Linked DNA regions of Homo sapiens: region 2 is linked to region 1. Evidence: fine-mapped expression QTL. A gene starts in region 1. The other region holds a variant in brackets. All regions are shown on one strand. Distances are from middle to middle.

Region 1 (2,916 bases):
AATTTTCTGTTTAATGGTATACAAAGTGGCAGCCATGCTGGGACAGCTAACAATCTCAAATTCTTCCAAGAGAGCTGATAATCCATTGCTTGTTTCTATTTCACAATTATCTTGTTCTCCATCCCTTTCATAGCTGATGTTACTGCAACACATTATACAGAGAAACTTGGCCTTGGCAGCATGGTGGTATTGGACAGCATTCAAAGTCTTCAGTAATGTCTGATGGCAGTTTTTTTGAGAGTTCAATTTCAAACCAAAAAGATCAATCAAAACAGCTTCTGCCATCCTTGAAAGAATACTTTTATGCCAAATAAATCACCTGCAAATAAAAATTAGTGTAAGAATATAAGATTATATAAATCTTATAGTTACAACAGAAATTTGTGGTAGATTAAAAACGAAGTAATTACACTGATTTTAAAATGTAACTAAAATAGTAAATCTAGGCCCCTCCCAGAAAAGCCAGTCTACTCTGTCACAACAGAACCATGACAGTGAAAGCAAAGCCATCTTTTAATTCGTTTTGTGAAAATGCTGGTACATCTTTCCAGCAGCACGACAGTTCCTCTGTTTTGTTTACACAGAACTTTTGAGTAAGGAATTACTTGTGGAGTTTAGACAAAGTCCTGTTTTTAAATTGCAGAGTGTCAACCTGTGTGATATATCATTAGTCCTGACATGATTGTCATATTAGGTCTCATCCTTTCATATGCGGGGGCTTAAGTTTACGAAGCTAAATGGAGCTGCACGCGAAATTCGCGTTTTAAGATGATAAAAGCTGAGATGGCTAATAGAGTTCCCTTCAGGATTTGCGCAGTACTCCACACTTAGCAATGACCACAAAAGCTATAGTGATTTGGATGAGACAGGCTTCCTCTCAACTTTCTTAATTCATTCTCCCCGTGCAGCTTTGCTCACCTCCAGCCCAGCCCTCCCACCCCAACCTGCGGGGCTCCGGTGACCCCCTTTGGTGACGCCCTTTGCCCCAAGAAGGTTTTCTCCTGCCGCTTCCCCTAACCTTTGCTCCCCATCTCTCGGGGCTCCCTCTGAGGTTCATTTAGCCAGTTTTGAGTGGGTGACCGTCCCCCCTTCCCTGTTCATTGTGAATTTCCGCCCAACGTGTGTCGCCGCCAGGTCCCTGTTCCTCCTACCCGCCTCGGCTCACGGGGCGCAGGCTGTGGCTCTGCACCTGCCCGGGCACCTCCACCGGCGGCTCACAGCCCATTCGGGACTTCCTGTCGGACAACGCACACCAGAGGCGATTCGGTCCTCGCCTTCCCGCTCTTCACCTTCGGTTGCACACCGGTCTACGGCGACCTCTGTGACAATTTGCCGCCCCGTCCCTCGTCCTGAGCCTCAACGAAATTGGGCAGCCGCGAGCGGGTCAGCTGGAGTCGTAAGCTCGGCCCAGCGCGACGACACCCGCCCCGCCTCACCTCGCCCACCTCGCCCACCTCGCCCCGCCTCGCCTCGCCCCGCCTCGCCCCGCCTCACCTCGCCCCCCTCGCCCACCTCGCCCCGCCTCACCTCACCTACCTCGCCGCGGCCGCACAGATTCCCCGCCTGATACCGTCCCAGGATCCCAGGGGAAACCTGACGGCCAGGTTCCCTCGTGCCAGCTGCCGGGAGGCGGGAGGGAGGTAGGCCAGGGCCGCCTGGCGTGCTTGGTGCGAACGCGGCGGGCCCAGCGCGAGAGCTGGGGAATCCCGGGATGAGCCAAGCGCCGCGAGCCCGCTGCTGCCTCAGCAGTTCCGGGTCTGGGCGGTCCGCGGAGTCGGCATCCCGCAGCCCCGGCGGCGTTAGAGGAACAGGAACCAGAGCCGCGCGAGGGCTCTCGCCCGGGAGCCAGGCGGGTTAGCGGGCAGGAGTGGGCAGGCCGAGTCCGGAAAGGGTCGCGAGGAGGCAGCTAGGGGCCCCTTGAGGAGGGATAGGGCGGCGGAACGACGGGCCCTGGGAGCGGGCGCAGGGCGGCAGGAGCTGCAGGTCTCCAGAGGGCACGGGGCGGGGAACTAGGGGCCCGGTTAGAAAGCCGGGCGGCGGGAACGGCGGGCACCGTGAGGGGGCGGCGGGAATGGTGGGTCGCGTGAGGCCGGGCTGCTGGAGCGACCTCGGGACTAAACCGCAGTCTCCCTTCTGCTAATGGAAGCCGTTTCCCAAGCGAGCTGAAGTCCGCGTTTCCGGTCTCTGAGGGACGCCTCGCTGACCCAGCAGTGTGGTCAGGACGCTGGGTTTCCTCACCGCAGCCCAGGGCCAGTCCCTTGTCATGCTAGCTCTTGGCAGCTTTTCCCATGCAGGGCTCAAGTCAGGGGCCCCCTCGAGATGTTTTAGTGTTTTTTTGTTGTTCATTTGTTTCCAGAAACAAGCTGTTGTCTCTCCTCCAATGTCTTTGTGCTGATTCTTGCTGACCAACACTCTTCCGAGCGCCTTCACTTGTGTTGACAACACGGATGTCCTCTATGGCCTTTTAAAATATGTGCCACTAGCAGGACTTAAGTAAAAGGCGCTCATCCCTAAAATCATGATAAAGGTGCAGTTTAGCATCCCTGATCTGTCCTCCAAGAATATAACGTTCATTTATTTGAAAATAGCAGTTAGGACATGGAAGGCCAGTGTATGGTAAAGGGAAAAAATATCCGACCTTCCAAGAGTAAGAGAAATGGTGCTTCCTGGGGAACTGGTTATGATGGAAGGAGAGGTCCCTTTTATCTTCATTGTTGCTCATTTGGTAGGCGCTAAAGAACCTTTGTCTCATAATCTCAGATAGCTGGGAATTTGGAAGAGCCCTCTGGGGTAGGCATGTTCTTGTGCTTGACTAGAGACTGGGAGCACTAACCCAGAATGGAAACCCACCCTTCAATAACCCTAGCACCAGTTATGTCAAAATTCATGTTTTCTTTGGTCATTTGTTAAAGAGCC
Region 2 (2,916 bases), 54 kb before region 1:
TTTCAGAAACTACTTTTGTGTATGCCAGATTATACTGAGGTTCCATGTTCATGGGGTTTTTAAAATCTCTTTTAATCCCTTTGATTGATAGATTACTAAAATATTTCAGGGTGGATTTGTTGGGTCTGTTTTCCTGTTGCCTAAATTCAATTTAGTTTAATTTATATATGGAATTATTACTACAGATAAATATAATCTTTAGTAAGAATTCCATAATTCCATATTTAAAGATGCAGGGGGGAACATACAAATTTAAGGCACAGTTTACATTCTAATTGGGTAGATAATTCAAGCACAAAGAGAAACATAATATAGGACAGAGTAAGGTGTTGTGTCCTAACACATAGAAAGTTATTCATTTACTACTATTCTGTCATGTGTTGGCCATCAGGAATGGGATACTTATGAGAAAAAAAGATGAACAACACAAAGAAGGAAAAGGGCTCTATCAAAGATAGATAGATAGTTAGATAGATAGATAGATAGTTCTTACCAAAGATATGACTAACATTGAATTCTGAGAGGGGCCTGTGCTCCTCTAGCCACACCAGAACCCTCTAAATAGTGTTAAATCAATCTGTTTTCAGGGTATAAGGGTGGAAAGCTATTAAATTATTTTTGTAATGGTGAAATTCAAAGAATAGAAGAGACCTCACAGACCACTTGAGCCAACCTTCCAGAAGAGGCTGAATTCCCTCTTTCAACAGAAATCTCCCTGTATCAGTGAGAGCCCTTCCACTAAACAAACCCAAAAGTGATTCATTCACCTCTTATTGACTCAGCAGCTCATTCCCTCTTCAGACAACTCTGTTCAACTTTCTTACACTAAGAGGAAATCTGTTTCCCTAAAATCTACACCAGATGGACATCTAAACCCTTCCAAGAAAGCCCTTGGATGTTTGAAAACAGGTATTGTGACCCACCACCCATCCTGTTGCCTGTCTCATCCCACCACATTTTTCTCTTCTACAACTAAATTCCCTCAATGGATATCCAATTTCCTCAATGGATAGCGCCCTTCACAATTATTTTATTTTGTTAAAATGTAAAAATAATAAGTGACTATTGTAGAAAACACAAAAAATATAAAGAAACAACCCTACAAGTGTGTGATCTAGTTGGAAAGATAAATGTGTGATAAGGATGCTATAAAAGCACAAAGAAAACTGTACGTGGCATAGCCCAGAGGTACGAAAGTGCATGATATTTAGAAAACTGGAGGACCTCATTCTGGGAAATGATCTGTATGAGAGAGGGGTAAAAGATGAAACTAGAGATCTAGATGGGCAGAAACCAAATCACAAAGGACTCTATGTGTTAAGACGTTTTATTTTTCTCCTAAAAGTTGTAGGGATACATGCCATTAATGTGTTTAAGGAAAGGAGAGATAAGATAAAATGTTTGTTTCTGAAAGG[C/T]CATTCTGCTGGCAGAGTGAAGAAAGAATTGAAAGGAGCAAGCTAGGATCAAGAAGAGATCAATTAAGAGGTTATTGCAGAGAAAGAAGTGATGAAAAACAGACTGGCAGCAATGTGGGAGTGGGAGAGAGGCATGGAAAAAATATTTAGGTGATAGAGTCATTATGATTGGTGTTCAATCGAAATTTAGAAGTGAAAGGGTCTGGGAACTGAGTGCATGGCAATTTGAGGAACTGAAATACTCAATGTGGCCAGAACAGAGTTCATTTCAGAAAAGTGGTAAGAAATGAGAGTAGAGGTATGATTGGGCCTGGTATAGGCCCTTGAAAGAGGGGTAAAGGAGTTAGAACTTCATACCCAGGACAATATGAAGGCTTCGAAGAATAGTCATCAGAAGAGTGTCCTAAGTAAGAGTTCCATTTTCAAAAACCATTCAGGTTTCAGTGTGGACAATGAATTTTAGGGAAGGGGGTAAGATAGGAGGTAGAGATAAGAGTATTGCAATAATCCATCCACATGAGACAACATGGTAGCCTGGATAAGAATAGTAGGACTGGAGAGTGGTGGATTAGAAATACTTAGAATGAACTCCAACAGGACTTAGTTATTGATATGATTATAACATTATAACATAATACCTCAAGTCTAGTACACATCTACTATGTGCCTGGCACTGTGCTCAGCAGTTGGTAGGGTGAGGTCAGAGAGTAAGAAGCCATGGATAATTCTTAGGATTTTTCTTTGGTCAATACAGGAGGTAAGGGCAGGTTGAAAAGAAAGACAAGAGGTTCTAGTTGATGCAGGAATATCAATGAACAGTGGAACATACATGTCTAAAGTTCAGGAGAGAGATTGGGCTAGATTTGGGAATTATTACCTTAAAGGTGGCAATTAAATAGATGAGAGAAGATGAGGTTCCTGGGAGAATGTGCAGGGTAAGAAGGGACCGTGGTCTAGATTAAAACACTAAATAAAGAACAGAGGAAGTCGGTGACTTTTTCTGTTGACCCAGAATTGGTACTTAAGCCTGTAGCTGACAACTACTGGTTGTAAGTGCCTAACATTATAAACATAAGTATCAATAATCTGTGCTAAATGTTCCTTCTAGGACTTACTAAGAATTTCAGACTTGCCCCTACAATAGTCATCCCTTGAGTAGATTTACCATGAAGCTAATGAAACTTAACCTTTAGGGTCTCTCACTTGCACAGGCTGTTTCTACTGTCTCAATAATATATTTACAAGTCATATGTTGTTATAAAGTTTGAAAAAGTAAAATGCTTTAAATACAACCATTAAGTCTATTCCAACTTCTCTCCATCACACTTTCCTAGAAACATTAGGTATAACAGGTTTTTGAGTTCTTCTAAGAGGATATTGAGTTGGGGACTCATTTAGTTTGGGTTTAGTGGGGTATTTTATGTAATTCATAGTCACTTCCAATGTATAGTTAAGTTACTGCTAGCTGCACTGGTATAGGAGAAATGTTCGTAAAACGCTC

Direction of the effects. Positions count from the first base shown, and alleles are read on the strand shown. Sizes are in standard deviations (SD) of each study's normalised expression.
With allele C in place of T in region 2, the expression in tibial nerve of the gene that starts at base 1,367 in region 1 is higher (small effect, 0.25 SD a copy in GTEx).

The links. PIP is the estimated chance that this variant, and not a neighbour inherited with it, causes the effect.
Region 2: its variant is the best candidate, but not a certain one, in a credible set for the expression of LACC1 in tibial nerve (GTEx, PIP 0.68).

Annotation. Positions count from the first base shown.
Region 1 is chr13:43,878,355-43,881,270 of GRCh38, reverse strand. LACC1 (laccase domain containing 1) reads right to left here and starts at 1,367. Exons shown (of 7, transcript NM_153218.4): 1 at 1,152-1,367; 2 at 1-319. The coding sequence starts at 285. It overlaps CCDC122 (coiled-coil domain containing 122), which reads left to right and starts at 1,531. Exons shown (of 7, transcript NM_144974.5): 1 at 1,531-1,640. RefSeq lists a silencer at 1,480-1,629.
Region 2 is chr13:43,932,326-43,935,241 of GRCh38, reverse strand. No RefSeq gene overlaps it. Among named protein-coding and RNA genes, the nearest start is that of LACC1, 54 kb to the right of the region's middle. RefSeq lists a silencer at 1,579-1,718. The variant C/T (reference allele first, on the strand shown) is at 1,416.